Homo sapiens: one gene and its partners. The protein of the gene in region 6 purifies or fractionates together with the protein of the main gene of each other region. This does not show direct contact. Each region holds a gene or a part of one and is shown on either strand. Other genes may lie near its edges. The genes, in order: TMEM127, CHP1, ALK, DHCR24, ORM1, RET and LEMD3.

Region 1 (4,292 bases), on a different chromosome or scaffold from region 6:
TTCTTTTGTTCTCGTAGAGTTCAGGGAGGGAGCTAAACTAAATGTGATATAGTCTACCAACTTTCCTAATCTATGTAATACTTTCTTGTAGCTGCACATTTCTCTAAACTGCCGCAACTTCCTTCTTCCTCTTTTCTTTATTTTACTTTTTTTTAAAATTGTGGTAAAATATACATAACATAAAACTTAGCATTTTAACTTTTTTTTTTTTTTTTTTTGAGACAGAGTTTCTCTCTTGTTGCCCATGCTGGAGTGTGAAGGCGCAATCTCGGCTCACCGCAACCTCCATCTCCCAGGTTCAAGCAATTCTCCTGCCTCAGCCTCCCAAGTAGCTGGGATCACAGGCATGCACCACCACGCCCGGCTAATTTTGTATTTTTAGTAGAGACAGGGTTTCCCCATGTTGGTCAGGCTTGTCTCAAACTCCTGACCTCAGGTGTTTTGCCCGCCTTGGCCTCCCAAAGTGTGGGATTACAGGTGTGAGCCACCGTGCCCTGCCAACATTTTTTTTTTTTTTTTTGAGACAGAGTCTCACTCTGTCACCAGGCTGGAGTGCAGGGGTGCAATCTCGGCTCACTGCAACCTCCACCTTCCGGGTTCAAGCAATTCTTCTGCCTCAGCCTCCAGAGTAGCTGGGACTACAGGCGCATGCGATCACACCCAGCTAATTTTTGTATTTTTGGTAGAGACGGGGTTTCACCATGTTGGCCAAGATGGTCTCGATCTTCTGACCTCGTGATCTGCCCGCCTCGGCCTCCCAAAGAGCTGGGATTACAGGCGTGAGCTACCATGCCTGGCCAATATTTTGTTTTTTTAAGAGACAGGGTCTCTCTCGGTCATCCAGGCTGGAGTGCAGTGGTGTGATTATAGCTTACAGTAACTCCTGGGCGCAAGCAGTCCTCTTGCCTCAGCCTCCTAAGGAGCTAAGACTATAGGCATGCGCCACCATGCCCAGCTAATTTTTTTTTTTTCCTCAAAGAGACGGGGTCTCACTATGTTGCCCAGGCTGATCTCAGACTCTTGGCCTCGAGCAATCCTCCTGCCTCAGCCACCCAAAGTATTAATAACCATTTTAAGTGTTGAGTTCATTGATATTAAGCACATGCATCATGACTATCTGTTTCCAAAACTATCATCATTTCAAACTGAACCTTTGTGCACATTAAATGATAACTTCCTGTTCTCCCCTCTCCCTACCTGCTGGCAACCACCATTATATTTTCTGTCTCTATAAACTGATTATTCTAGGTATCTCATATGAGTGGAATTATAAAATATTTGTCCTACATTTGGTTGATTTCACTTAGCATAGTATCTTCAAGTTCAACTTCTTTTTGGAACAAAAAGGGAATGAATGAGTGAGTAAATGGAGAATCAGCATTAATTGACCTGTATGGTCTTAGCCTCTCTGGCTGTCTCAGCTCCAAAGTCAGGCTTTTCCTGCCAGCTCAAAATATCCTTTAGCAGAATGCATTAACATGTCAGGTTAACTGTCAGTGTCTTTAAAAATGGTTAGAAGGGCATGGCATACACAGTGAAGTAGAATCCTGCACTTAGGCTAGTCCTGTTGGAAAGAGAAGGACTTGAGGTACAGGAGAGCAGTGGCCTCTGCTAATGTGGAATTTGCTCCAGCTACCCTGCAGACCACCCAGGAGCAGGGGCTAAGACAGCGTCCTCCAGAACTGCCCTGGCTCCCAGGACTGTGGTGGAGGGGAATCAAACTCCTTCTAGGTGGGGACTTCCTGCACCAAGTGTTACTTGGGGCCGTGAAAATTTGGTTCTCCCTCTACAGATTTCTGCATGAATCCCCAGACAGTGCTGCTCCTGCGGGTCATCGCCGCCTTCTGTTTCCTGGGCATCCTGTGTAGTCTCTCCGCTTTCCTTCTGGATGTCTTTGGGCCGAAGCATCCTGCTCTGAAGATCACTCGTCGCTATGCCTTCGCCCATATCCTAACGGGTAAGCCGTGAGCCTGCTCACAGTGGGAGAGGAACTGCTACAGGGTGGGGGCATCCTGTCTGAGTTGCCGGTGGGGGCTCTGGTTTCTCTGAGCAGGCACCCTTCCAGGAGCTCATGTGCCAAGCTCCAGTCTTTCCCAGAGTGTCAGGGTGTCAGCAGCCTGCTCCAGTCTAGCTGCTAACTTGCCAGGATCACAAACCCACTCAGCCCAGCTGTAGAGGGGAAATGTTGCTAGAAATTCCACAAGGAAGCTCACAGCTCTCTAAAATGGCATTTGAAGCTCAGACCTGACATGAGTGAAGAAGGAACCAGGCAGTCTCCCGTGTCTCCCCTGGAGCTCCTGGTCAGATTCTCTCCTCTCCACCTTCCTGCTTCCCTACAGACCCGCCTTTTCTTGTATGTAGCTGCTGTCCTCCCTCGTGCCTGCACTGCTGTGCTGGTTTGAATTGTGGTGTGCCTACTCCAGCTCCCAAGCTGCATGACCCTATTTGCTCCTTAAGACAGATGGAATCTGACTGGCCTAGATCAGGTCAGACTGCTGTCCCCAACCTCAGGCCAGGAATCCCATGGTCAAGAGAGCTCCTCCTTGCAGAGTCTGGGGCCAGGCAGGTTCTCTGAGAATGGGGTTTGGGTAGAGAGGCTGTGATTGGGTCCTCAAGCATCCTAGCTGTGGAGTGCTCACTAATTCCCCTTCTGTGCTGTCCCTCTGTCTCCTAGTTCTGCAGTGTGCCACCGTCATTGGCTTTTCTTATTGGGCTTCTGAACTCATCTTGGCCCAGCAGCAGCAGCATAAGAAGTACCATGGATCCCAGGTCTATGTCACCTTCGCCGTTAGCTTCTACCTGGTGGCAGGAGCTGGTGGAGCCTCAATCCTGGCCACGGCAGCCAACCTCCTGCGCCACTACCCCACAGAGGAAGAGGAGCAGGCGCTGGAGCTGCTCTCAGAGATGGAAGAGAACGAGCCCTACCCGGCGGAATATGAGGTCATCAACCAGTTCCAGCCACCCCCTGCTTACACACCCTAATGCCAGCCCTGGGCTCTCTTCCTCGGCAGCCCCTCCCTCAACTCTGCAGCTCCTCTCGCACCCAGAGGAGCTCCTTTCCCCAGCAGGCCTCACTGGTAGGATCCTGACCATCTTCTCCAAACCTTCCCCAGGAGAGACTCTGCCTTTAGGGTCATCCAAGTATCCCTGCTCTCAGAACCGGAGGTCCACTGGTTTTCTATAATGTACTCTTTCCCTCCTGCCACATCCTGCCCCCTTCACATTCACGAGTCATTACCAGCCAGGGAAGGTCATCCAAGTTTCCTCCAGCATGGGCGATATCTTTGGGACCGAGACTTTCCTTGGAGAGCTGCTGAGAGCGGACAGTCCCAAAAACAAGTGTCAAAGGGCCCAAGGGAAAGGGGACTGTGCCCTGGAGGCTCACTTCACAGGGATCAGTGTTTGCTCCACAGCTGTAGCTCTGGGCTGACGCCCCCCAGACCCCTTCCTTCTCGGAGTGACCCGCCCCCAGGCCACCTGCTCCGGGGAGTTCTGTGCACTTTACTCTTTGGACTTCTCCTCACGTGTGCCCTGGTTTTATGGGGAGAGGGAATCGCTGTTGGGAAGGCAGAGCAGTTGCAACCCTCTCTGCCCTTGCTTCATGTGGCTGGAGCCCAGGCAAGGAGAGCAGGAGCCAGCGTGAGACTGAGGCCCCCTGGTGCCTATCAAGGACCAGAGTGAAGGGGACTACATCTCCCAGCCCTTCACCTTTTAAATATGAGTGGTTTTAAAAGGAAAAAAATGAAACCAGGCAACAGCAACAATATTCTGTTTTTAAAATAGGGACAAGACTGTTGTCACTTTTTAGACATGTATCCCATTCCTTTTGGCTCTGCAATATTTGGGGCTGTAGCTCCTTCCAAGCCCATGGTAGTCCCTCCCCGAGTCTCTCCCAGTAGAATGCAGCCTCCCTTCCCTGGCCCCTTCCCTCTCAGTGACGGTGACTCCCTGGGGCCTTCTCGTGGAACCCAGAGGGGCTGAGGACTGTGGCCTGGCTGGCGGGCCAGCGTGGTGCTCCTCAGGACTGCAGCACTGAGATGGAACCTGGCCTCAGTTTAGGAACAGGGGCCACAACAGGGCAGGAACCCACCACCCTCCACATAGGAATACAACCAGTGGGGCCACATCATGTGAGGCATCAGACCCACACTGTCAGCCCAGCAGGCCGGGCTGTGTCCTTCAGACCCAGTGCTGCCCTAGACTCTGACTCGGGACTCCAGCTTGCCACGTGCCCTCTCCCCTCTTGAATGTACTCTGGTCTTGCAGTGTGCTGCTGGGACTTTCTTGCTCAG
Region 2 (4,292 bases), on a different chromosome or scaffold from region 6:
TTTTGTTTGTTTTATATAATGTTTTAAAATCTCTCTTAATCCCTAAGAGACTAGTCCAGGGCTTGAAGTCTTCATGTCAGGGGGAATGTTAAGGTGTAGTCTATTCCGGGAAGCGCAGGCTTCAACTTTCCTTTATCTAGAGCTACCTTTAGCTGTACTTGTAATCTTTACATAGGTTATCAGTCTGTTCTTCTGCATTAAGATTTGGAATAAAGGCAAGGACAAAATAACTTTTTCTTTTCTTTTTTTTTGAGATGGAGTCTCGTTCTGTCACCAGGCTGGAGTGCAGTGGTGCAATCCCGCCTCCCGGGTTCAAGGGATTCTCCCGCCTCAGCCTCCTGAGTAGCTGGGACTATAGGCACGTGCCACCATGCCCGGCTAATTTTTGTATTTTTAGTAGAGATGGGGTTTCCCCATGTTGGCCAGGATGATCTTGATCTCTTGACCTCGTAATCCACCCACCTCCCAAAAGTGCTAGGATTACAGGCATGAGCCACCATGCCTGGCCCTCCAAAATAACTTTTTCTTACTCCCTTTTTGTTTTTATTCTTTCCTCTGCCACTTCTGCTTCGCACTTCTGTGAAATGCCTTCCTCCTCTTTGCACAATGCAGTGATGATAGAAAGATTTCAGCAACGTTAACAGGGTCTTTTTTTGTTTTTTTGGCGTGTGTTTTTTTTTTGAGACAGGGTCTCACTCTGTCACCCAGGTTGGAGTGGAGGGGTGTGATCATAGCTCACTACAACCTTGAACTCCTGGGCTGAAACAGTCCTTCTGCCTCTGCCTCCTAAATAGCTCAGCGTACAGGAATGCACCACGATGCCCAGCTAATGATTGATTGATTGATTATAGAGATGAAGTCTTGCTTTGTTGCCCAGGCTAGTTTTGAACTGGCCTTTCGTCAAGGGATCCTCCCACTTTAGCCTCCCAAAGTGCTAGGATTACAGGCATGAGCCACTGCCCTCAGCCAAACAGGGTCTTTTAAATAATCTTTTAACAATTTAAAATGATTATATACCCATACCAGTGGAGAAAAAATACAGCTTCATTCAAGACATGTTTATAGCAGGGCACGGTGGCTCATGCCTGTAATCCCAGCACTTTAGGGCGGCTGAGGCGGGTGGATCACGAGGTCGGGAGATCGAGATCATCCTGGCTAACACGGTGAAACCTGGTCTCTACTAAAAATACAAAAAAAAAAAAAAATTAGCCAGGCATGGTGGTGGCAGGTACCTGTAGTCGCAGCTACTCAGGAGGCTGAGGCAGGAGAATGGCCTGAACCTGGGAGGCAGAGTTTGCAGTGAGCCAAGATCGCGCCACTGCACTCCATCCTGGGTGACAAAGCAAGCCTCCATCTCAAAAAAAGAAAAAAGACACGTTTATATGCACGGCCTTCTCTGAGAGTAACTGTCAACTCCTGTTATTTCCTTTGGGTTACCAAGAATTGTGCAGGTTTTGGGCACCTATCTGACTAGCTTAGAGCCTTCTGGGGAAAATACTTCACTGGAAACATGATCTGCCTTCATTCACACCAGTTCCAGTACCTTTCTACACATGGATGGTGTAGCTCCTTTATAGGTAGATTGGGATTGTTCTGAGATTGCTTTATATTCTTTGTCACAGTGAATTTAGTACCTAAATTAAAGCCTTCTCTCCTTCTTTTTGTTAACAAAATTACTTGTAACCATATCGTTATGGTTCTAAAATTTGTTCTAAAATTTTGGAGATAAGTTTAGATATGACCATATTGATTAGTATTAAAAGTTGACATTTGGTTGTATGTTTCTCCACTGACTCCCATATAACCCAGTTCGTCCTGGAAGATAGTTTTTTTTTTTTTAATGTTTTGGCTACTTATTTACATTATTTATTTTTAACATATTAGTACATTATTTTTTGTTATCGTTTGTTTTGTTTTGTTTTGTTTTGAGGCGGAGTCTCACTCTGTCGCCCAGGCTGGAGTGCAGTGGTGAGATTTCAGCTCACTGCAACCTCCATCTCCCAGGATCAAGCGATTCTCCTGCCTCAGCCTCCCAAGTAGCTGGGATTATACCACCACACCTGGCTAATTTTTGTATTTTTAGTAGAGACAGGGTTTTACCATGTTGGCCAGGCTGGTCTTGAACTCTTGGCCACAGGTGATCTGCCCGCCCTCAGCCCCCCAAAGTGCTGGTATTGCAGGCTTGAGCCACCAGGCCTTGCCACATTTTGAATTTAAGCAGCCATAAACTGGTCTTAACATACTATAGGAGGTTTCAGTGCCCAGTTATTTTATTTCTTTTTTATTTATTTATTTTTTCGAGACAGAGTCTCCTCTCTGTCACCCAGGCTGGAGTGCAGTGGCGCAATCTCAGCTCACTGCAAGCTCCGCCTCCCAGGTTCAAACCATTCTCCTGCCTCAGCCTCCCGAGTAGCTGGGACTACAGGTGCCTGCCACCACGCCCGTCTAATTTTTTGTATTTGTAGTAGAGACAGGGTTTCACCGTGTTAGCCAGGATGGTCTCAATCTCCTGACCTCGTGATCCGCCCGCCTCGGCCTCCCAAAGTGCTGGGATTACAGCTGGGATTACAGGTGTGAGCCACCACGCCCAGCCTCAGTGCCCAGTTATTTTAGATGATATAGATTAGAAAGATGTTTAATGGCTCATTTGTGGATTTTTTTGGTTTAAAATAATTTTATTTTTTATTTTTATTTTTATTTTGTTCCCCAGCCTGGTCTTGAACTCCTGGCCTCAAATCATTGTCCTGCTTCTGCCTCTGGAAGTGCTGGGATTATAGGCGCCAGCCATCATGCCTGGCTCTCATTTGTTCATTGAAGGGGTCGGATTAGATAACATTTCTACCAATTTTAAAATTATATAAATTGGATAAAGAAGGACTCCAAAGCAATATAGAAAAAGTATGAATTACTAAATGAAAAGCAAGCTATTACAACTTTGTAAAGTACACGAGTAACTGATATTAGATGATATATGAAGAGCTGGGCGCGGTGGCTCATGCCTGTAATCCCAGCACTTTGGGAGGCCGAGGTGAGTGGATCACCCGAGGTTGGGAGTTTAAGACCAGCCTGACCAACATGGAGAAACCCTGTCTCTACTAAAAATACAAAATTAGCTGGGTGTGGTGGCGCATGCCTATAATTCCAGCTACTTGGGAGGCTGAGGCTGGAGAATCACGGGAACCCAGAAGGCGGAGGTTGTGGTGAGCCAAGATTGTGCCATTGCGCTCCAGCCTGGGCAAGAAGAGCGAAACTCTATCTCAAAAAAAAAAAAAAAAAAAAGATCTATGAAGAAATGAAAATGGCAGTGTTGGGATTGTGAACAAATTTTGTTTTTTTCAAAAAATCTTTTGGGAAACTTAGTAATTCTTTTTTTTTTTGAAACAGAGTCTTGTTCTGTCACCAGTCTGGAGTGCAGTGACGTGATCTCCGCTCACTGCAACCTTCGCCTCCCTGGTTCAAGTGATTCTCCTGCCTCAGCTTCCCAAGTAGCTGGGACTAGAGGCAGACGCCACCACACCCAGCAGATTTTTGTATTTTTAGTAGAGACGAGGTTTCGCCATGTTGGCCAGGATGGTCTCGATCTCTTTTCCTCAGCATCCGCCCGCCTTGGCCTCCCAAAGTGCTGAGATTACAGGCGTGAGCCACTGCGCCCAGCCTGAAATTTAGTAATTCTTTAACTGACTTATTTTTGTTAAACTAAAGGGAACTTTAGTACAAGAATAGCCTTTGAGGCCTGAGGCCAGAACTGGGATAGACTGGTCAAGTTCTTAAAGAAAACGGTTGTAACTGGCAAAGTCAGGAGGGAAATGGAGAGTAATTAGTGCAGCAGTAATACTTGTGCCTTCAGGCTCAGGATGTAAGCATGATGCTGATAATAGCTAATCTGGAGTGCTTGCCATGTGCCTGGCACTTTGCCAAGCATTTTCCTTTCATTGACTGGTGAGTTCGCTCTACAATCCCATTCACTTACCTCTCTCTGGTAAGCCATGGTGCTAGCAATGGAATCAGAATCTGTCTGCCTAACCCTCACAAGTGTGTACACTTTACAGTGAGCCATTTATACCTGTCCGGCTGGCAAAACAGTCCACAACTGTCTCCTTAGTGGCTGGATCCCTGCTGGCTCTGCCCCGATGGAAATGCTTTTGCCTTCTCTGCTCAGTGATCACTTTAGAGCACTAGGACAGAACAGAGCCCAGCTTCGAGGGTGAAACCTGATGCTGAAGAATTCACAGCCACACATAGTGTGTCCTCTTATCCCAGCTCTGGGCCACTCACTACCTGCTTGTCCCTGT
Region 3 (4,292 bases), on a different chromosome or scaffold from region 6:
CTGGCAGGAAGCAGGGGTACAAGGCACGCTCTCATCTGGGTGTACTCAGCTGTGGCCAAACAGGTCTCCTAGGGCAAGCAGCCTCCTGGTTTTCCTAGTGTGGATCTGAAGCCCCCAGGCCCCACTGAAGATGGGCCCCGGGAGCTGGAGCTGGTGCGGGCGCCCTCCAAGGCGTCCTGCATCCTGCTTCTCTGGCCAGCATGGCTAATTGAACCTTGCCAGCATCCTCACGCAGGTTCCCTATCTCTTCCCGCAGGTGGTGGAGGTGGCTGGAATGATAACACTTCCTTGCTCTGGGCCGGAAAATCTTTGCAGGAGGGTGCCACCGGAGGACATTCCTGCCCCCAGGCCATGAAGAAGTGGGGGTGGGAGACAAGAGGGGGTTTCGGAGGGGGTGGAGGGGGGTGCTCCTCAGGTGGAGGAGGCGGAGGATATATAGGTAAAGATGATTCGTGTTCAAGGTGTCACTCCCTCCCTGCTTAGTCCTAGGCTCCTCACCTCCCTGCCCTGCCCTCCCCTGCCCTCCCCTGGCCTGCCCAAGTGTGGACTGTGATGTGACTGCACGCCTCCCTCTCGACCTGCCTGGACCAGCCAGAGGCAGGGTGCTGGCTTTCGAGCCAGCACCCTGCCTCCAGGCTTCCTCAGCGACAGCATCAAGATCCCATGTGATTCTTGATGTCCCCCAAAGTCGATGATAAAGAGGCTTTGGCTTGCCAGACTAGTCTCTGAGTCACCCATAAGGACTCCCCCAGCCTCCCTTGGATGGCCTGGCCAAGCCAGCTCCTGAAGGGGCTGGTTTGTGGTTTCATGGACTCCTTACTCCTGCTCCCTACCTCAGCCCACCAGCTTCCTGAAAGGCGCCGCTGTGCCTGCTGATGGGAGCTATTCCCGAGGGCAACTGCAGGCAGGCTTAGCCCAGCCCTTCAGCAAGCAGCTGCCCATTGACCCCAGCTGCCTCGTCTGGGCTTCAGAGCACAGTCAGCAGAGCCTTCTGAAGCTGAGAGGCTGGGAGACGATGGCTCCCCGCTCCCCACAGATTAGGACGAATGCATGCATGCTCTGTGGTGTTCGTGTCTGTGTTTTGCATTGACGCTGTGTGTAAGATGCTTGTGTTAACCACATGCTCTTCTTTTCCAAGCTGGGTGGGTGGGAGGAGCCCGAGGGGGGAGCCCAAAGATAGCCCAGCCCCAGATGAAAGGAGGGACGGGAGCCTCAGGGCACAGGGGCTCATTTCCCGCAATCCGCACAGCCCGCCACACCCCAACCCTGACCCAATGGGGCTGAAGAGCAACTCTTCAGTGCTACCATCCTGACCAGTCCTGGGAGAGGCACCATGGGCATATCCCAGCCTGGAAAGACTAGAACTTTTTGGACTCTTGCTCACATTAACCACTTCTTAGTGGGCCACCGGCAGAGTGGGAGCTGGCCTGGACCTGAGGGGAAATTAGCCACACACCCAGCATCTACTGAGCCAAATCCCACATGCAGCCTCTGTGCCCTGAGCCTCCCTTCCCTCCCCGCATCCCTGCCCCTGAGGTCCCCAGTGACCCCCTAACTTTGGCCAGAGCTGCATGCCCCACTGACGTGTGTGTGTGTTAAGATTTTGGCACCCACCCCCCATGTTAAACTCTGCTCTGGTTTGCTACTCAGGCGGCAATGCAGCCTCAAACAATGACCCCGAAATGGATGGGGAAGATGGGGTTTCCTTCATCAGTCCACTGGGCATCCTGTACACCCCAGCTTTAAAAGGTAGCTTCTCTGCCAGGCAGCAGAACAAACTTGCTTAGGTCAGTCCTCCCACCAAGCTAAAACCTCAGAGTCTCTGACCTGTATCCAGGATACAGAGGCACAATTATGGGTCCCTGGCAGGCAAGCTTCCTATGGCGCAGGTCACCACATTTTCCAGAAGTCAGGATGTGTGCTTTAATATGAATGCAGAGGCAGAATCCTAGGAAATGTAACAGTAATAGCCCAATACCTGCACCAGCCAACCTAAAGATCATGTGCGTGGGCTTCTCTCCACCACTGACTCAAAAGCAAACATCCATAGACACCCATGCCCGCTGCCTCCGCTGCACTCTCTATATGCACAGGAAGACTCTTCTACACAGTTGTGCTTCCAGTGGCTATGGGACCTAGGAACAGGGACCACCAGAGCACCCACAGTGACCACCTGGAGACATAGTACTGAGGCTGGGAGTGGGGAGGCAGGCTCGGCCCAAGACTGACCCTCCCTCCTTGTCACTAGTGATGGAAGGCCACGGGGAAGTGAATATTAAGCATTATCTAAACTGCAGTCACTGTGAGGTAGACGAATGTCACATGGACCCTGAAAGCCACAAGGTCATCTGCTTCTGTGACCACGGGACGGTGCTGGCTGAGGATGGCGTCTCCTGCATTGGTAAGGGGGCAGGGCCAGGGGAGGCAGAGGGGCCCATAGCCTGAGATTTGGCCCATGACCACAAATGGTTTCTGGGTTCCAGAACACCCTGGATTCGGTTTTGTAAACTTTCTGTCCCTCCCCTACCTGCCACAGCTCGAGTGCTCTGACCACTGTGTGAAAGGTGGGTCATGGCTCCTGAAGGAGTCTTAAAAATCCTCTACTATAGAATAAGCCCTCTACCACCCCCACCAAGGGGCCATCCTGCCTCCACTTAAACATGCCCAGTGACAGGGATCTTACTGCTCCTAAGGTTCTCTGTTCCCTTGGGCAGTTTCAGAGCTGGGGACCTGTTGCCTTAACCTTCCTCTCCTAGGTTTCCTTACAGCAGCAGCTGTGCATGTGCAGTGTTTGAAGACAGTGCTCCCATTCTCCTCCTCTTTTTTTTTTTTTTTTTTTTTTTTGAGGCGGAGTTTCACTGTTGTTGCCCAGGCTGGAATGCAATGGTGTGGTCTCGGCTCACTGCAACCTCCGCTTCCCAGGTTCAAACAATTCTTCTGCCTCAGCCTCCTGAGTAGCTGGGACTACAGGCGCCCACCACCATGCCAGGCTAATTTTCATATTTTCAGTAGAGACAGGGTTTCACCTTTTGGCCAGGCTGGTCTCAAACTCCTGACCTCAGGTGATTCACCCGCCTCGGCCTCCCAAAGTGCTGGGATTACAGGTGTGAGCCACCGCACCTGGCCCCATCCTCCTCCTTTAACTCTTCTTCAGACTAAATAACCCATTTGTTTGCAGCAGTTCATACAAGATGCAGTTTTGTGTCTCTTCCCCCGCCCCACCAGTGTCCCTCTTCTGCATGTGTTCCACTATCGATGTCCCTTTTGAAATGTAGTGTCCAGTACCAAGCACGATACCTCCGTGTGGTCTGGCCAGCAGAGGGCACAGGACCCCTCCCCACTGTGAGCCCAGTGCCTCAGGGCCACAAGGAAGTAACTTAGCCTCAGAGGGTGTTACTTACAGCGCACCCTGTTGTTTGGTCACCTGCGGCCCCCACATCTCTTCCAGATCCACTTTCGTTTCACCTTCCATCCTCACCCCATAGTTGTGCAGCTCATGTTTCAAACCAACATCCCGCCACTGATATTCATCCCTGTTAAATTTCCCTTCACCCAAAAGCTACTGCTAAAAGCCTGTCAAATCGGGATGAGTCTGGTCCTGCTCATGGTCCCCTGAAAAGAAAAGTGTGACAAGGTCTCCAGCGATGGGAAGGAGCAAGTAGTTTTTGTCTCAGTGGGGGAGGTTATTTCTGACTTGGGACCAACTCAAAGGAGACCTGGTGTGGTTGTCAATACCCCAGTGGGACCTGTCTTCCAGTGTCACCCACCCCGGAGCCACACCTGCCACTCTCGCTGATCCTCTCTGTGGTGACCTCTGCCCTCGTGGCCGCCCTGGTCCTGGCTTTCTCCGGCATCATGATTGGTGAGTGCACAGAGCCCCAGGGACTCCCAAGGGGGCAGGAAGGCAGGACTGAATAGTGTCTCAGGCTGTGCCACAGGTGCCAAGGTGTCACTTCGTTATGCTAGTCCCTGGAATTGGGTGGGGTGGTGATTAGGGCAGCCCAGGCCAAGCCAAAACGGAAGCTCCCAACCTTCCCCCCACCAGAGCAGCTGCAGTTCCCTGAGGAGCCCCTGATTCTGCACCTCAGCCCCGTGTGTATCCTCCTGGCTGATCAGGGGGTGGGGAGCTCCTTCAGTGTCCATCACGATGGTGAAAGCTCGCCCCCACCCCTAGACGTCACTTCTAGCTCCCACATGCTTCCACCGGCGCAGCTCCTGTTTGGCTCCCACCCTATGTAATGCACTAGCCCACTCTTCCCCAAACCAGCCCTCCACCACCCTCCAGGCAGAGA
Region 4 (3,500 bases), on a different chromosome or scaffold from region 6:
CAACCCCACTGCTCCATTAGGGAAGGCAGCTGTGCCTCTGGCCAAGCAGAGGGGCAGAAGCCCAGCAGTCTGAGCTCTACTCCTGACTCTACCTCCACTGCTAAGCTACCTAACCCCCAAGCCCCAATTCCCTACCTGCAAAAGGGGGATAAGAATACCTGCACCATCTTCTTCACCAGGTTAACGGGGTTAAACAAGAGAAATCCTCCAAAAGCCTTTTCTGGGCTGCAGAATGAGCAGTTGGGTTTCTCTCACGCCTCGCGTTCCGTGTGCCTCCTGGCGTCCTCACCCACTTCTCTGCCTCTGCAGCTTCCAGATGCTGTATGCCGACTGCTACATGAACCGGGAGGAGTTCTGGGAGATGTTTGATGGCTCCTTGTACCACAAGCTGCGAGAGAAGCTGGGTTGCCAGGACGCCTTCCCCGAGGTGTACGACAAGATCTGCAAGGCCGCCAGGCACTGAGCTGGAGCCCGCCTGGAGAGACAGACACGTGTGAGTGGTCAGGCATCTTCCCTTCACTCAAGCTTGGCTGCTTTCCTAGATCCACACTTTCAAAGAGAAACCCCTCCAGAACTCCCACCCTGACAGCCCAACACCACCTTCCTCCTGGCTTCCAGGGGGCAGCCCAGTGGAATGGAAAGAATGTGGGATTTGGAGTCAGACAAGCCTGAGTCCAGTTCCCCGTTTAGAACTCATTAGCTGTGTGACTCTGGGTGAGTCCCTTAACCCCTCTGAGCCCGGGTCTCTTCATTAGTTGAAAGGGATAGTAATACCTACTTGCAGGTTGTTGTCATCTGAGTTGAGCACTGGTCACATTGAAGGTGCTGGGTAAGTGGTAGCTCTTGTTGCTTCCCGTTCAGCGTCACATCTGCAGTGGAGCCTGAAAAGGCTCCACATTAGGTCACCTGTGCACAGCCATGGCTGGAATGATGAAGGGGATACGCTGGAGTTGCCCTGCCATCGCCTCCATCAGCCAGACGAGGTCCTCACAGGAGAAGGACAGCTCTTCCCCACCCTGGGATCTCAGGAGGGCAGCCACGGAGTGGGGAGGCCCCAGATGCGCTGTGCCAAAGCCAGGTCCGAGGCCAAAGTTCTCCCTGCCATCCTTGGTGCCGTCCTGCCCCTTCCTCCTTCATGCCTGGGCCTGCAGGCCCACCCCAGCCACCACTGAGTCCACTCGGAGTGCCCTGTGTTCCTGGAGAAGGCATTCCAGGGTTGAATCTTGTCCCAGCCTCAGCCTGGGACACCTAGGTGGAGAGAGTGGTCTCCGCTCTGAATTGGATCCAGGGGACCTGGGCTCATTCTTCTTGGCTCACCAACCCTGCAGGCCTCATCTTTCCCAAAACCCACTTTGTCTTGGTGGGAGTGGGTCCGCGCTGCTCTGCAGCAGGGGCTGGGGAGTGGACAGCATCAGGTGGGAAAGTGGAGTCCACCCTCATGTTTCTGTAGGATTCTCACCGTGGGGCTGGAAGAAAAGAGCATCGACTTGATTTCTCCAACCACTCATCCCTCTTTTTCTTTCTTCCACCACTCCCCACCCCAGCTGTAGTTAATTTCAGTGCCTTACAAATCCTAAGCTCAGAGAAAGTTCCATTTCCGTTCCAGAGGGAAGGGAACCTCCCTAGGTCCTTCCCTGGCTTGTTATAACGCAAAGCTTGGTTGTTTATGCAACTCTATCTTAAGAACTGCCCAGCCTCAGCTGAAAACCCGAATCTGAGAAGGAATTGCGTCATGTAAGGGAAGCTGGAATTAAGGGAGCTGAGCCAGTCATGGTTGTGGCGTGTGAGTCAGGAGACCTAGGTTTCAGCCCCTCTCTACTGTCAGCGAGCTGTGCAACGTGGGCAAGTCATTGTCCTCTGAGCTGCAGTTTCCTCATCTGTCACATCGCTACAGACAAGACCTCCCTGGAACCCTTCTGATTGTCTTAGACACTGTGGTTGCAAAACCCACGGAAAGCCTCATTTGTGTGGAAAGTCAGAGGAAAAATGATCCAGTGGACACTTGGGGATTATCTGTCATTCAAGATCCTTCCTTCAACCCCAAGGTCAGCTCCCATCTCATTTCCAGAAAGGCTCATACCTGGCTTGCAGGGAAGCATCTGTCTTGTCATTCCAGGTGCCAGAATCCTCTCAGAGTCATTGAAGGGTGTTCACCCATCCCACCCAAGGCTTGGCACACTGCCAGTGTCTTAGCAGGGTCTTGTGAGGGCTGGGGGCATCCAGGCACTCAGAAGGCAAAGGAACCACCCTACCCATTTGGCCTCTGGAGGGGGCAGAAGAAAGAAATAAACCTCATCCTATATTTTACAAAGCATGTGAATTCTGGCATTAGCTCTCATAGGAGACCCATGTGCTTCCTTGCTCAGTGCAAAACTGATGATTCTACTTGCTGTAGATGAATGGTTAACACGAGCTAGTTAAACAGTGCCATTGTTTTGCCAGTGAAGCCTCCAACCCTAAGCCACTGGGACGGTGGCCAGAGATGCCAGCAGCCTCTGTCGCCCTTAGTCATATAACCAAAATCCAGACCTTATCCACAACCCGGGGCTTGGAAAGGAAGGTATTTTGGAATCACACCCTCCGGTTATGTTGCTCCAGTAAAATCTTGCCTGGAAAGAGGCAGTCTTCTTAGCATGGTGAGCTGAGTTCATGGCTTTTTTTTGTAGCCAGTCCTGTCCCTGGCCATCCATGTGATGGTTTTGGATGGAGTTAAACTTGATGCCAGTGGGCAGTGCATGTGGAAAGTATCAGAGTAAGGCTCTCCCCTCCAGAGCCCTGAGTTTCTTGGCTGCATGAAGGTTTTCTTTAGAATCAGAATTGTAGCCAGTTTCTTTGGCCAGAAGGATGAATACTTGGATATTACTGAAAGGGAGGGGTGGAGATGGGTGTGGCAGTGTATGGTGTGTGATTTTTATTTTCTTCTTTGGTCATGGGGGCCAAGGAGAAAGGCATGAATCTTCCCTGTCAGGCTCTTACAGCCACAGGCACTGTGTCTACTGTCTGGAAGACATGTCCCCATGGCTGTGGGGCCGCTGCTTCTGTTTAAATAAAAGTGGCCTGGAAGCTGGCGTTTGTCGTTTCTTGCTTGGGGGACCAAAATGTGGAGTCAGATCTGGGCTCGGGTGCAGGCTGTGCCATTCCCCAACTCAGTTGCTCTCACTGAACCCATGAGCCCATGGCCGAGGGCTAGAAGAACATGCAGGAACTGACAGGTTTATTTCTATCACTGTCAGAGTGTGATTGGAGTAAGTGTTGAAAGGATCCCTCTGTGTGCAGGGTGGCAAGCAGACCAGTGAGAAGGCCACCACTGCAGTCCAGGTGAGACGATGGTGGCTCTGGTTAGGGTGGAGGCCTGGCTTTGTCACTTGGTTGTGACCAATTAATTTTAGCAAGTTAATCCTGTTGAGACTGTTGTCCTCATCTACAAACTAGTGGACCCACTAGCTGTCCATTAAAATGCATTCCTCCATTCTTTGGACACATAGCTAGACTACCTTTCC
Region 5 (5,071 bases), on a different chromosome or scaffold from region 6:
GAGGTTGCAGTGAGCCAAGATCCCACCACTACACTCCAGCCTGGGCGACAGAGTGAGATGCCATTTCAGAACAAAAACAAAAACAAAAAAAGAATAGAGTAAGTGAATGAAAAGTTGTGCATCCATTACACTTTTATTTATTTATTTATTTATTTATTTTTGAGACAGGGTCTCTTGCTCCATCATACAGGCTGGAGTGTAGTGGCAAAATCACAGCTTACTGCAGCTTTGAACTCCTGGGCTCAAGCAATCTTCCAGCCTCAGAGTCCAGAGTAGCTAGGCTTTCAGGTACATGGCACCAGACCTGGCTAATTTTTTTGTTTGTTTGTTTGTTTTCCTTGAGACGGAGTCTCACTCTGTCACCCAGGCTGGAGTGCAGTGGCGCCATCTCAGCTCACTGCAAGCTCTGCCTCCCAGGTTCACGCCATTCTCCCATCTCAGCCTCCCAAGTAGCTGGGACTACAGGCGCCTGCCACCACGCCCAGCTAATTTTGTTTTTGTATTTTTAGTAGAGATGGGGTTTCACCATGTTAGCCAGGATGGTCTCCATCTCTTGACCTCATGATCCGCCCGCCTCAGCCTCCCAAAGTGCTGGGATTACAGGCGTGAGCCACCGCGCCTGGCCGACCTGGCTAATTTTTAAATATTTTTGTGTAAAGATAGGGTCTCACTATGTTGCCCAGGCTAGTCTTGAACTCCAGGACTCAGGTGACTCTCCCATCTTGGGTCCATTAAGCTTTTAACTACAAACTACACTGAAATATGAAAGTTATTCAGAATGAAATGAATAAGAATGCAAAATTATAATCATACCGTAAGAATACTTTCTGAGTAATCCCAGCACTTTGGGAGGCCGAGACGGGTGAGTCACCTGAGGTCGGGAGTTCCAGACCAGCCTGGCCAACATGGAGAAACCCCATCTCTACTGAAAATAACAACAACAAAAAAAATTAGCTGGGCGTTGTGGAGGGCACCAGTAATCCCAGCGACTCAGGAGGCTGAGGCAGGAGAATCGCTTGAACCCAGGAGGCACAGGTTGCAGTGAGCCGAGATTGAGCCATTGCACTCCAGCCTGGGGGACGGGAGTGAAACTCCGTATCAAAAAAAAAAAAAAATGAATACTTTCTGAAAGTATTTATTCATACAAATAAAGACTTGACCCGTGAGGTAGGAACACAAATGGGCCACGGAATCACTCATTCCACAGAATATACCGAGTGCCCTTGAAGTGCTGGGCACTGCTCCAGGATTGGGGGCGTATTGGTGAAAGAGAAGCAAGCTGCCTGCTCAGATGGCAGGGAATGGGGGAAAACAGGGAGACAGTTTCCTGTTTGAGATGTTGGGAGATGCTTCGAGTAGTATATTTACTGGAAATAGACATTCAACTTGGATGTCCCTTTTTGGAAATGTGCCTGCGTCCAGGGCTGGGTTGGGGCCCCAATGAACTTTGGCTCTGACACAGCTGTTGCCACACTCAGTGGAACTGAATCTATGTTTGTCTTCCCCGGCATCCTTCACCCCAACTCTCCCCGCCACAACATACATCCCATGCCAGCCTGGGGACCCTCAAAGGTGGCTTCATCATTAGGTTTGTGGCTGGGTCCCACTGAAGTAAGTCTTGGCACTCAGAGGGATAGGAATTGAATGAAGACATGAGATTCCTCTGCGGGAGGCCTCTCTAGGAAATCTGTGGACTCACACGTTTACTAATGTTGCTGCAGCCCCGCACCCACCTTGGCCTTGGGCAGCCATACTCTAGGGCTTTTGTAACCTCTCCATGTGAGGAACTCAAATTAGACCTGGGTTTGGAGGCGGTGCTCCGAGCTGGCCTTTGGGGGAGGTTTTGTGCGAGGCATTTCCCAAGTGCTGGCAGGATTGTGTCACAGACACAGAGTAAACTTTTGCTGGGCTCCAAGTGACCGCCCATAGTTTATTATAAAGGTGACTGCACCCTGCAGCCACCAGCACTGCCTGGCTCCACGTGCCTCCTGGTCTCAGTATGGCGCTGTCCTGGGTTCTTACAGTCCTGAGCCTCCTACCTCTGCTGGAAGCCCAGATCCCATTGTGTGCCAACCTAGTACCGGTGCCCATCACCAACGCCACCCTGGACCGGGTGAGTGCCTGGGCTAGCCCTGTCCTGAGCACATGGGCAGCTGCCTCCCTTCTCTGGGCTTCCCTTTCCCTGCTGGCTGTGGTCGGACCCCCACTCCCGGCTCTGCCTTTTTCTCTTCTGGGTCCCCAGGGTGAAATTCTCACCAGCCCAGGGGACTCTGGAGGCACCCCCTGCCTCCAAACACAGAAGCCTCACTGCAGAGTCCTTCACGGAGGACGGTTCTGTGCTGGGCCTGGAGGGGCTGCCTGGGGGGCAATGACTGATCCTCAGGGTGAGCTCCTGCATGCGCACTGCCCACCAGGGGCCTCATCTCCCCATCTGCAAAATCAGGGAGAGATCTGCCTGAGTCTCCTCCCAGCTGACAGTCAAAGATTCAGCATCAAGCCCCCATCACCAGCTCCCACCTTCTCCCCAGATCACTGGCAAGTGGTTTTATATCGCATCGGCCTTTCGAAACGAGGAGTACAATAAGTCGGTTCAGGAGATCCAAGCAACCTTCTTTTACTTCACCCCCAACAAGACAGAGGACACGATCTTTCTCAGAGAGTACCAGACCCGGTGAGAGCCCCCATTCCAATGCACCCCCATCTCAGCTTCTGGCCAGAAGACCTGAGCAAGTCCCTCCTTCTTCCTGGCCTTGGCCTTCCCATGGGTGGAACCGGGAGGGCTGGCTTTAATCTCCACCAGACTCTTGCCCCAGGACTGTGATGGGCGATTGGCCACTTCTCAATAATCTTCCTGTTTTCCTTCCGCCTTCTGTTTGGCTTTAGACAGGACCAGTGCATCTATAACACCACCTACCTGAATGTCCAGCGGGAAAATGGGACCATCTCCAGATACGGTGAGGGCCAGCCCTCAGGCAGGAGGGTTCACTGTGGGAACAGGGCAGGCCAGCATAAGGTGGGGGCTGGATGTAGAGCCCTGGAGGCTTTGGGCACAGAGAAATAACCACTAACATTTTTGAGCTCTAACGATGTGCTCAGAAACAACTCTAAGAGGACACTGAGAGAATTAGAGGAGGAAAAAGAAGAACAGAGACCTCAAATAGTTTCCCCAAGGTCACACAGCTTATAATTAGAACTAGAATTGGAACTCCAGGCTGGCTTCAGATCTGCCTCTCTCTCATGCCCTCTTTAAGATCCTTTGCAAACCAATGGTAGAAGCCTGTATGTTGGAGAGGTGGTACCTTCAACTATGTCCCCCATCACCGCAGAGGTGGCACATGGCAGGGAGCTGATGGAGCTGAACTGACACCATTTAGCATCCCGAGCCTCCTCTCTGGGCCTCATTTTCCTCATCTGTAAAACGGAGAAAGGCCCTGACAGCCACGGTCTGTGTGAGGCTCCTGAGATCTCATGTACAGAAAGTGCTTGGCGTGGAGCTGGGCATGCAGCAGGGGCTGGGCACACGGTGGCCCAAAGGAGCCCTGGGCCTTCACTGATGGGCTGTGTGGCCACTGACACACCTAGGCCTCCTCACCTGTAAGACAGACACCATTGTGCCATCCCATGTTCTCACCCAGAGGCTCCTTTTCTCTTCCAGTGGGAGGCCAAGAGCATTTCGCTCACTTGCTGATCCTCAGGGACACCAAGACCTACATGCTTGCTTTTGACGTGAACGATGAGAAGAACTGGGGGCTGTCTGTCTATGGTAGGCATGCTTAGCAGCCCCAAACTCATGCCCCTCTCAGGCCTCACCCCCCATTCACCCACCCCTGGGCTGGCCCCTAGAACCCCAGCCCTCCCTGGCCTCCCGCCGGGCCCCACCATGTCCCCAGTCAGTCTCCTTGCTCCCCCTGCAGCTGACAAGCCAGAGACGACCAAGGAGCAACTGGGAGAGTTCTACGAAGCTCTCGACTGCTTGCGCATTCCCAAGTCAGATGTCGTGTACACCGATTGGAAAAAGGTAAACGCAAGGGATTGGACAGTGCCCACCTTGTCCATGGCCCAACTTGGGCAGCCCCAGAGGCCCAGAGCAGGAGAGCTGCCAGGCAAGGCTGCACAGCTAGGCAGATCTTCTGCTTTTAGGCACCTGCCTCACTGTAGGGACAGCTGAGCTCTACAGAGGCCCAGGGGTGGTGGATGAGAGCCCAGGAGGGAGAAGTCCCTGTGAAACCAGGGAGGACCTGAAAGCTAACAGGAGGGAACAGCGTGAGCCACGGGGTTGGGGGATTGGCAATTGGAGGGGACGTAATGCGGGGAGTTACCACCTACAGACGCGTCCCAAACCCCAGGCTTTCACCCCACCTCCACTCCCCACTCATTTTTAATACCCGTGCAGTGGGGAATTGATACTGTGGTTTTCAATGTCACCCACACTGCAGCACGGCCACAGTCACCATCCCGATTTTTGCTACAAATGAAAATTACTTTATAATGAGCTCCTTAACACTTTTCTTTAAACCTGTGTTTGGAAGACTTGCGTTGGTGTGGCCCTGTGCCCAATACCTGTGAAATCACAGCACCGATGAGCTGGTTCCAATTTTTAAAATATATACATGCAGTACTTCCATGACTATTCAAAGAAAAACAATTCCTTCCATTTGCCATCTGAGATGACCACCAGTGGTGTGAACTACCTCCTGCCCCCATCTGCAGTCCCAGGATCCTGGGACAGGGCTTATGAACACAACCACTGTAGTCAGCTCACCTGATCCACAGCCTGGCACCCCCACTGTCTGGCTAGGGAGCCTCGAATGGGTCCCAAGGCCACCCTGCTCCTCAGTTACATCATCTGCATAGTAGTGGTGGTTGTGAGGAATTCAGGAGCTGCAGCATAAGGGCTCGGCAGGTCCTAAGTGCACAGTAAATGCCAGTGATTCTTAAGAGTCTGAGCTCCCATTGTAGAGGCAAGTAAGCTGAGGTTCAGAGACAGAAAATGACTTGCCCAAGATCACCCAGCTGGGAAGTGACAGTGCCAGGGTTGGAGCCCTGGTTGAGCTGGTTCCACAGGCCAGAG
Region 6 (4,292 bases):
CATGTAGTGGGGCCACGACGCCCGTCTGTGCAGCTTGGCCAGGGAATTGCACTGGCCCTGAGCACCTGTCTGCAGTGCTAGCCCTCTGCAATGACCCCCTCACTGAGGGGCCTTCATGATGTGTTCGTGAGGCAAATGGCTGGGCCAGGCCGGGCTGCAGTTCTGAAAGCTCCGGTAGAGCATGAGAGCCGAGCAGGTGGCCAGTAACCCAGCCTCCCCCACCCTTGCTAGTCCCATGCCTCCCTCTGGGTCCCTTGGTGACTCAGGCCCAGCCCAGCAGTTACCCTCCTGTGGTCCTGAGTAGGGCTTTGGGCTCAGGCAGAGCACCCAGTGACTTGCCCCCACCCACAAGTGGAGCTTGGGGACTCCACCTGAAGATGGCCTTGTGTGAGTTTATAGATTGGTGTGCCCCAAACTGCTCAAAGGTGGAAGCCAAAATCTCATTCTTCCAGGTCCAATGACAAGAGCTGATCACTTTTAAAACACAGGATTCTTGCCTCTAAAGTGTTCTACAGTCAGCAGAGGTGTGATGTGCCTCTCTTTTTTTGTGGGGGGAGGGGATAGGGTCTCACTCTGTCACCCAGGTTGGAGTGCAGTGGCGCAATCCTGGCTCACTGCAACCTCCACCTCCTGGGTTCAAGCGATTCCTGTGCCTCAGCCTCCTGAGTAGCTGGGATTACAGGCACGTGCTACTTCGCCTGGCTCATTTTTTTGTATTTTTTGGTAGGGACAGGGTTTCACCATGTTGGTCACACTGGTCTTGAATCCTGACCTCAAATGATCCACCCACCTCAGCCTCCCAAAGTGCTGGGATTACAGGCGAGAGCCACCACGCCTGGCCAACATGTGCATCTTAAATACTGTGGGCTGTGAATAAGCAATTGGACAACAGCTTTCCGATTATATAAGCTGACTGTAGGCTAGTTGGAAAAGGCAGAGAAAAGCATAAAGAAGAGACTGAATGTCATTGGACCACACCGCCCAGTGACCTCTGGCTGCCCTCTGGTGTGCTCCGTGGTGTGCACATGTATGCTTTTTATTGCCCTAAATGGGCTCATGCGATGCTGTTTTGTGATATGATTTTGTTCCCATTGCAAAGCGAGTTTTCCTTCACAGTTAAAATGTTTTTCTATAGCTTTTTTTCCTTCTAAGATTTTATGAAATTTTCCAAGCACATAGAAATGGCAAAAGAACTATACAAGGCACTCTGAGTCTGGTGGCCTGCATTCTCACCGCTTTAAGTGTGAGAATCTTAAGAATTATTAAGATTAATTCATGATATTAATTAATGTATCATTAATTCATTAATCATGAATTCATCTTAAGCCTCATGTGTCCCTTGTGCGTGTGGCTGCTCTGATGGGAGTGGCTTGGGCAAGGACTTCAGCTTCATGGAGTAGGGGCCAGGCAGGCAGGCAGCCCTTCCCCACCTTCATGCTACATCCATCTGAGCAGCCAGACCCAGGCTGACATCTGTGAGCATCTGTGCTTGAAGCCGACAGGGTCAGCAGGTGCTTGGTGGTGGGGGTGGATATCTGGGCCCCCCGGAGGGCTCTGTGAGGGCCAGGTGGAGCCACTCACTGGTCCTTTCACTCTCTGCAGATGGTCTTTTGGTGTCCTGCTGTGGGAGATCGTGACCCTAGGGGGAAACCCCTATCCTGGGATTCCTCCTGAGCGGCTCTTCAACCTTCTGAAGACCGGCCACCGGATGGAGAGGCCAGACAACTGCAGCGAGGAGATGTGAGCGGGGACTGGCTTTGGCCCAGCCTCACTTGGGAAGGGAGGGGACATCTGTGTGCATTCCCTCCCCATCCAGAGCAGCCCCAGGAGAAACCAGGAGAAGTGGGGGGTGGGGAGTGGGCAGGGCAGAGGTTAGAGAGCCATCCTTGGGTGTGGCAGTAGATGCTGGGGGTCCTACCCCACTGAGGGCTGGTGGGCTTCCTAGGGGGTCTTATAAAAATGAGTGAGAGCAGAGACTGGTGCAATGCAAGCTCAAGGGCTGAGAGCTGTCCCAGCAGGACACTTAGGGAGGAGAAGGTAATTCCAGATGGCCCAGGGGGCACGTGTTAAGGGGTGCCTGAGTGGAGGTGCAGAGCCAGGCAGGGGCAGCCTGGGCTGCAACCTGAGAGGTTGAAACCTTTACACTCTCAGGGGAGATGGTCTTAGAAACCAGGCTGAGAACAGATGAGAAAGGGCTGCCCAGAGGCAGAGATGCATGGTACATGCATTCCACAGAGTGTGCACACTGCTGGGGCGTGGAGGGGGCATGCTGGGCCGAGAAGCCAGGTACCACCTCCCTGGGCCCCCAGCTGGTGGCCAGCTGGAGCGCTGTGGTCTGCCTGGGCACCCAGGCAAGCAAGGACGGTGCAGGACAGACGTGTGATTGCCAAAGGTTCTTGTTTGTCTGTCTCCACACCTAAAAGCCCTCAATCAATTCATTCTTCTTGAGAGTTTTAAGGACTGGCACTTCTCACTTAGCTGCCAGAGCAAGCATAGTATCCAGTGAGCTGTTTACCAGTGTCTTTGCAAGGGAAGTAAAAATGAATCTCCCTTGGAGGGAAGGGAAGCTTGTAGGATTCTGGACCACAGCTCTGAGAGACCTGAGCACAGTGGCCCACGGGCTGGGATCCTGCAACAGGCCATGCCCCAGTCCCACGAGGCTCAGAGATGTCAGCGATGCAGAAATAGCTTTGGAGTTGGAGACAGAGCACACTGGGCCCAGGGTACAGGGCAGGGTGCGATGGCTGTGGTGGGCTGTCCTTCTGAGACCTGGCCCTGCTTGGATCATATTGGCCTGTCTGCTCTTCCCACCAGGTACCGCCTGATGCTGCAATGCTGGAAGCAGGAGCCGGACAAAAGGCCGGTGTTTGCGGACATCAGCAAAGACCTGGAGAAGATGATGGTTAAGAGGAGAGTGAGTGCCTGGGTCCAATTCCCACAAGCTGAAAGTGGCTTGGGGAGACTCCAGCCTCACCCCAGGGCAGTAGTTTTAGCCCTCAGAGTTCCCAGTGTGGGGCCACAGTGGGATTGTGCAGAGAGAGAGAGTCATGCTCTCCCCTGCATGCAGACAGCAGATTGAACCCTTCTCAGGCCAGGCCGCTTGGGCTTCTTTTCAAGTCATGAAGAAACCAAGATTCTTGACATTTAGGAAAAGCTCTCTACAGACAGGCATGGGAGGAAAATATTCCAAAGCCAAAAAGAAATAGTTTTCCATAATGGAAAATGAGAAAGTTGAGTTAAAGCAAGTGCCCAAAATTCAGATGCCCAGAGGGGGGTCCGGCTGGAGGAGGGCAGTGAGTAAGGAGCAGTGGAGACTGTGGCAAACAGCCAGCCCCCTCCAAAGGGTTCCTTGCTGGAGTACCTGTGGCCTGCAGAAAAAGGAGCCAGGAATGGGCTGGGTCTTCTGAATTTTATGAGGTTTATGTTGTCTCCCAGTTTTTATTGTTAACAATTCATTTAAATTTCCCAGAGCCGAACGCAGGCCAAACAAAGCATATCGGGGGGTGGCCAGAGTCAGCCTGTGTGCCTGGAAGTACAGTTTGTGAGGTCTACACATTTTCAACCAATATTCATCAGGCAGCTGCTAGGACCCATACTATGTCTCAGAGGCTGGGAATGCAGATAAACAAGACCAGCACAGCCCTGCCCTCACGGGGTTTACACACAGGCCTTGTCTTAACATTGGCACATTTACTGAGTTGTCACTTCTTCCGACTTGGATAGCGGGATGCAGGACCTAGGACCCCATAGGAAAACTTCACATCACTGTCTCGCTTGGATGAAAACTTCAAGTCCTGAGAATGCAGCGTTGTTCAAAACAGAAGCGATCACTGGTGCTGGCCTTCCTAGAACAGTGCTGAGAAACAGCCGGGAAAACGCTGGGCCCCTCTGTGCACATTCAAGCTGGGCATTGAAAGGAGCAGACGCCAGTGGCCCCTCGTGCTGGGGAGCCCGTGCCTGTAGCAGGGTCCTGTGCACCCTGACAGCGCTGTCAGATTTCAGAACTCAGCCCTGACGTGACGTTCTAGATGGCAGGGGTCCTTGGGGAAAGCTGGAAAACATCCTGCAGGCTGGGGCTGCGTCCTGGCATGTGGCTGCAGTGGGCTCCCCCAGAGCCCAAGGGTTTGTCAGCGGGCTGGTTCCGTGCTGCCCATCTCCGGGTTGGGCCAGGGGCAGCTAGATGAGGCGTCCCCCAAGGCTGCCCTCCAGGCCCTGGAGATAAGACGCTGAGGGAGCACATTTCTTTCCCCAGGGAGGTGACTTTCCAGGGGAAGAGACAGAATAGACAACAC
Region 7 (4,292 bases), on a different chromosome or scaffold from region 6:
AAGTACAAGTAAATACAACATTTATTTCATTGATTTTTAATATATGCATGTATTTGAAGGGTACTATGTGGCATCTGTGTCTTTGAAGAACTAAATGAGTACAAAATCCTTTTTAAAAATGTATGGTAGTGACAACATTACAAAGAAGACTAAATGCAATAATGTTGTCTTCAGCTACACTGATAACCTATATTAATCTTGCTTTGTAGATTTTCATTTATATACAAAGTGATTTCTAGTAGTATATTTATAACAATTGAAACTAATTGCCTGAAATTATTTTGTGTAACTTTATTGCATAATATTTTAAAACAATATTAAAGCAAATAAAAATCACTTGTATCCTCATTCTTGTGCTACTCATATGAGTACATATATTTTATAATTATAAATACAGTTGGCCCTACGTATACATGGGTTTTGCATCCATGGATTTAACCAACCGTGGATCAAAAATCTTAGTGGCAATAAAAAGAAAAAAAGTACAATGGAAAAAATACAGATTTTAAAAATACAGCTATCTATATTCATTTATATTAGGTGTTATAAGTAATCTAGAAATGATTTAAAGTATAAAGAATGATGTGCATAGGTTATATGCAAATACTATGCAATTTTATATCAGGGACTTGAACATCTGTGGATTTTGGTATCCATGGGGCATCCTGGAACCAATCCTCTGTGAATACTGAGGTATGACTGTATATATAAATTAAATGTTGTAGTTTTATTTTTTTAAGCAGATAGCTGTTTAGCTCTCATCATGATTATTTCTAAGTTCATAATATCCATTGAAATGATCTCATATATAAACCTTTTTTCAATCATTAAATACATTGTCTGCAATTTTTTTGATGTTTGTAAATGCTATAATAAACACCCAAGCTTAAAAAAACAGATGGCCTATAGTTATCTTCACCATCTTAAAAATCCTAATAGTAGTTTCATGTAATGATGCCTAACAAGATTAGTTCTGCTTTATAAAACTTTTTATTACATTTGCAAATTTGATACATTAGAATAACTTACCAGTTTTATATTAGGAAGTAAACTATACTGATCAAATGAAAACCTTATAATTTCCAATGCTGTTGAAGAATCTGTTGATAAAATACAATAGGACACTTCTTAGAAAAATCTTTTTTTTAGAGAGAATTTGAAATGACTTTTTATTTCTGTTTTTAGAAATTCATTTTTTCCTCTACGAGCCAGGCACAGTGGCTCATGCCTGTAATCCTAGCACTTTGGGAGGCCAAGGCAGGCGGATCACTTGAGGCCAGCAGTTCGACACCAGCCTGGCCAACATGGCGAAACCCCATCTCTACTACTACTAAAAATACAGTGATTAGCTGGGTGTGGTGGCACACGCCTGTAGTATCACAGTTACTTGGGAGGCTGAGGCACAAGACTGTGCTTGAGCCCTGGAGATGGAGGTTGCAGTGAGGCGAGTTCGCACCACTGCACTCCAGCCTGGGTGACAGAGCAAGACTCTGTCTCAAAAAAAAAAAAAATTCATTTTTTGCTCAAAAGGGACATAAAGACATACTAATAATACAAGCTCCATGAACACAGGGAATTTTTCACTGTGTTGTTTATGCTGCACCTCTAGTTTCTAAAATAGTACTTGGCACATGGTAAAGGTGTTTATAACAGTATTATATTTGATAAATTTTTAAAAATTGGACATATTCTAAATGTTCATTAATAAGGTGTTGATTAAAAGTATAGAATAATCATACAATGGAATACTATTTTGTTGAAAAAAATAGGGTTTTTTCCATGTAAACTGACATTGACACAATATTTTGTTCCATGAAGAAAACAAGTAGAACAGTAGTATGTGTAATATGATACCACATTTATTTTTACTATTTTAATTTAAAAATACTCTACCCACACATAGCAGTTCTTAAGCTTTTTGGTTCCCTATAATTACTGAGGACTCTGGCTTTTGTTTGTGGGAGATATACATTTATATGTTTTTGTTTCTATTAGAAAGATATATTTACTTTCTAATGGTAAATATGTATTACAAATACATGTTTATATTAAAAATTAAAACTGAAAAAAATTTATGTATTTAGAATAAGAAAAATGAATCTATTATATGTTAACGTAATGTATTTTTATGAAAAATAACTTTTCCAGAATGAAAACATTCAATGAGAACAGTGGCATTGTTATATATTTTATAAATCTCTTAAATGTGTAGCTTAATAAAAGGTGACTGGATTCTTATCTGCTTCTTTATTCAATCTGTCATGATGTTTTAGTTGAAGTATGTCATGAAAATCCAGCCTCACATTGATATGTAGTCAAAACATTGGAAAGTATTTTAGTTGCCTTTTCAGGTAATTGTAGATAGATATTTTCTTTGATACCATACCAAACCTCTATAAGTAGTAGTTTCTTAAATGTTAGTTGCAATGTGGAATGTCAGACTGTGCCAGTGAACTTTTTGTACTCTTGTCTCATAAAATCCTTTTATTTTGTACTTTGAATGGATCTTTTACCTATGCGTGATTGGTTTTTATAAAAATCAGAATTTTTCAAATGCATTGGTCATTTTCAGATGCATTGGTCACATTTCATTATTCCATATCAAAAAACTGCATTTGTTAATGTCACACAAATCTCATTGGAAAGGTCTTCAAGTATTGTGAAGTTGTCCAGGTCACAAAGATGAATGCTAGTTTTTCAAAATTCTACTTTTTACTTGAATGCTCAAATCTTATAATTGGTAACCCGGTCAGTTTTTCTTTAGTTGATAGGCTTACTGCTTTTATGTGTTGAGAATACTTGTCTGTGAAACATCCAAATCTGGAAGAGTTTGCCATTTATTTGTTCATCTATAAATAATATTGCATTTTTAAAAGTGGTAAATTCACTCTTATGATGGCACTGATAAACTAATGATAAAAAAAGAACTTCCAAGCCAGGCGCAGTGGCTCATGACTGTAATCCCAGCACTTTGGGAGTCCAAGGCTGGCGGATCACTTGAGGTCAGGAGTTTAAGTCCAGCCTGGCCAGCATGGTGAAACCTCGTCTCTCTAAAAGTACGAAAAAAGAAAATTAGCTGGGCCTGGTAGCTGATGCTTGTAATCCCAACTACTTGGGAGGCTGAGGCAGGAGAATTGCTTGAACCCAGGAGGCGGGGGCTGCAGTGAGCCAAAATTGTCCCACTGCACTCCAGCCTGAGTGAGAGAGACTCAGTTCCCAAATATGTAAAATATAAAAAAGCAAAATATTAACACTGATTATATTGGAGTAGTGGGAAAATGCTAACTTTTTTTTTCTTTTTTCTCATTCTTTTTAAAATTTTCTGTAATGAATATTTTATGTTATGTAGTTAAAATAAAAATGTTATATAGAGTGTGTTATAAAGGATACTTTACAGAGAGTCGAATGTAGATTAAGAATAGTTATTTTTCTCTATTTTTCTTGTTAGGATTTAGGTCCTGAATATGAAGGTATATTTAACACTTCATTGCAGTGGATCTTAGAAAATGGAAAAGATGTTGGAATAAGGTAAAGGATCTGATTTCCACTTTGACCATTCTGTACTGGGAGAAATGGTTTTTGACTTTAAATTCTACCTTACTTATTTTTAAATAGGTGTGTTGGTTTTGGCCCTGAGGAAGAATTGACAAATATAACTGATGTGCAGTTTTTACAGTCCACAAGACCACTGATGTCTTTTTGGTGTCGTTTTCGACGTGCTTTTGTTACTGTAACTCACAGATTATTGTTGTTATGCTTAGGTAAGTTGTAAAGATAAGAAATGAGATAAATTGCAGCCTGAATTTTTGTGTGTATTTCACTAAATGCCAGAGTTGAGAATTCATTTTTGTGATGGTTGCCACATAAGTCACAGCTAGATGTCTTCACTAAATATAATAAAAATAATGTCAGAATCATTCTAAAGGCTTAGAAAGCAGTAATATAAGGAGAGGTAGAAATAAAACTTTGTTATAAGACTGTCACAGAAAAACAAGTGTGGTCAGTATATACATAGAAATCTACTTTAGAAAGTAGAATTGAAAAATACAAAAATTGAGCTTATTTTTAAATAATAAAGTGTTATAAAGTTTATTAAAATTTAGTTTTTAAAATGTAATTTACCTACATTTAAAATTTTTATCATTTTTTAATTGATAATAGGGATTTAGGTGAGAGTTGTTTTTTCATTCTTTCTTTCTTCTTTAAAAATAATTCATTTTGGCCAGCTTTAGTGGCTCACACCTGTAATCCCAGCACTTTGGGAGGCAGGAGGATTGCTTGCACTCAGGAGT

What was found.
Region 1: the proteins of RET (region 6) and TMEM127 purify together in Homo sapiens (affinity purification with western blotting; one study listed by BioGRID). This does not show direct contact.
Region 2: the proteins of RET (region 6) and CHP1 purify together in Homo sapiens (affinity purification with mass spectrometry, with the first as the bait; one large-scale study listed by BioGRID). This does not show direct contact.
Region 3: the proteins of RET (region 6) and ALK purify together in Homo sapiens (affinity purification with western blotting; one study listed by BioGRID and IntAct). This does not show direct contact.
Region 4: the proteins of RET (region 6) and DHCR24 purify together in Homo sapiens (affinity purification with mass spectrometry, with the first as the bait; one large-scale study listed by BioGRID). This does not show direct contact.
Region 5: the proteins of RET (region 6) and ORM1 purify together in Homo sapiens (affinity purification with mass spectrometry; one large-scale study listed by BioGRID and IntAct). This does not show direct contact.
Region 7: the proteins of RET (region 6) and LEMD3 purify together in Homo sapiens (affinity purification with mass spectrometry; one large-scale study listed by BioGRID and IntAct). This does not show direct contact.

The regions. Positions count from the first base shown.
Region 1 is NC_000002.12:96,252,498-96,256,789, reverse strand, and holds part of TMEM127 (transmembrane protein 127), read left to right. Parts: intron 1-1,792; coding exon 1,793-1,957; intron 1,958-2,674; coding exon 2,675-2,982; 3' UTR 2,983-4,292. UniProt on the Homo sapiens protein: Controls cell proliferation acting as a negative regulator of TOR signaling pathway mediated by mTORC1. May act as a tumor suppressor.
Region 2 is NC_000015.10:41,237,495-41,241,786, forward strand, and holds part of CHP1 (calcineurin B homologous protein 1), read left to right. Parts: intron 1-4,292. UniProt on the Homo sapiens protein: Calcium-binding protein involved in different processes such as regulation of vesicular trafficking, plasma membrane Na(+)/H(+) exchanger and gene transcription. Involved in the constitutive exocytic membrane traffic.
Region 3 is NC_000002.12:29,225,031-29,229,322, reverse strand, and holds part of ALK (ALK tyrosine kinase receptor isoform 1 precursor), read left to right. Parts: intron 1-256; coding exon 257-439; intron 440-1,650; coding exon 1,651-1,749; intron 1,750-2,248; coding exon 2,249-2,401; intron 2,402-3,757; coding exon 3,758-3,862; intron 3,863-4,292. UniProt on the Homo sapiens protein: Neuronal receptor tyrosine kinase that is essentially and transiently expressed in specific regions of the central and peripheral nervous systems and plays an important role in the genesis and differentiation of the nervous system.
Region 4 is NC_000001.11:54,849,196-54,852,695, reverse strand, and holds the end of DHCR24 (delta(24)-sterol reductase precursor), read left to right. Parts: intron 1-309; coding exon 310-463; 3' UTR 464-3,069; downstream 3,070-3,500. UniProt on the Homo sapiens protein: Catalyzes the reduction of the delta-24 double bond of sterol intermediates during cholesterol biosynthesis.
Region 5 is NC_000009.12:114,321,135-114,326,205, forward strand, and holds the start of ORM1 (alpha-1-acid glycoprotein 1 precursor), read left to right. Parts: upstream 1-1,963; 5' UTR 1,964-1,999; coding exon 2,000-2,113; intron 2,114-2,528; coding exon 2,529-2,671; intron 2,672-2,883; coding exon 2,884-2,954; intron 2,955-3,655; coding exon 3,656-3,763; intron 3,764-3,914; coding exon 3,915-4,018; intron 4,019-5,071. UniProt on the Homo sapiens protein: Functions as a transport protein in the blood stream. Binds various ligands in the interior of its beta-barrel domain. Also binds synthetic drugs and influences their distribution and availability in the body.
Region 6 is NC_000010.11:43,122,069-43,126,360, forward strand, and holds part of RET (proto-oncogene tyrosine-protein kinase receptor Ret isoform a precursor), read left to right. Parts: intron 1-1,602; coding exon 1,603-1,740; intron 1,741-2,814; coding exon 2,815-2,914; intron 2,915-4,292. UniProt on the Homo sapiens protein: Receptor tyrosine-protein kinase involved in numerous cellular mechanisms including cell proliferation, neuronal navigation, cell migration, and cell differentiation in response to glia cell line-derived growth family factors (GDNF, NRTN, ARTN, PSPN and GDF15).
Region 7 is NC_000012.12:65,235,054-65,239,345, forward strand, and holds part of LEMD3 (inner nuclear membrane protein Man1), read left to right. Parts: intron 1-3,448; coding exon 3,449-3,528; intron 3,529-3,615; coding exon 3,616-3,761; intron 3,762-4,292.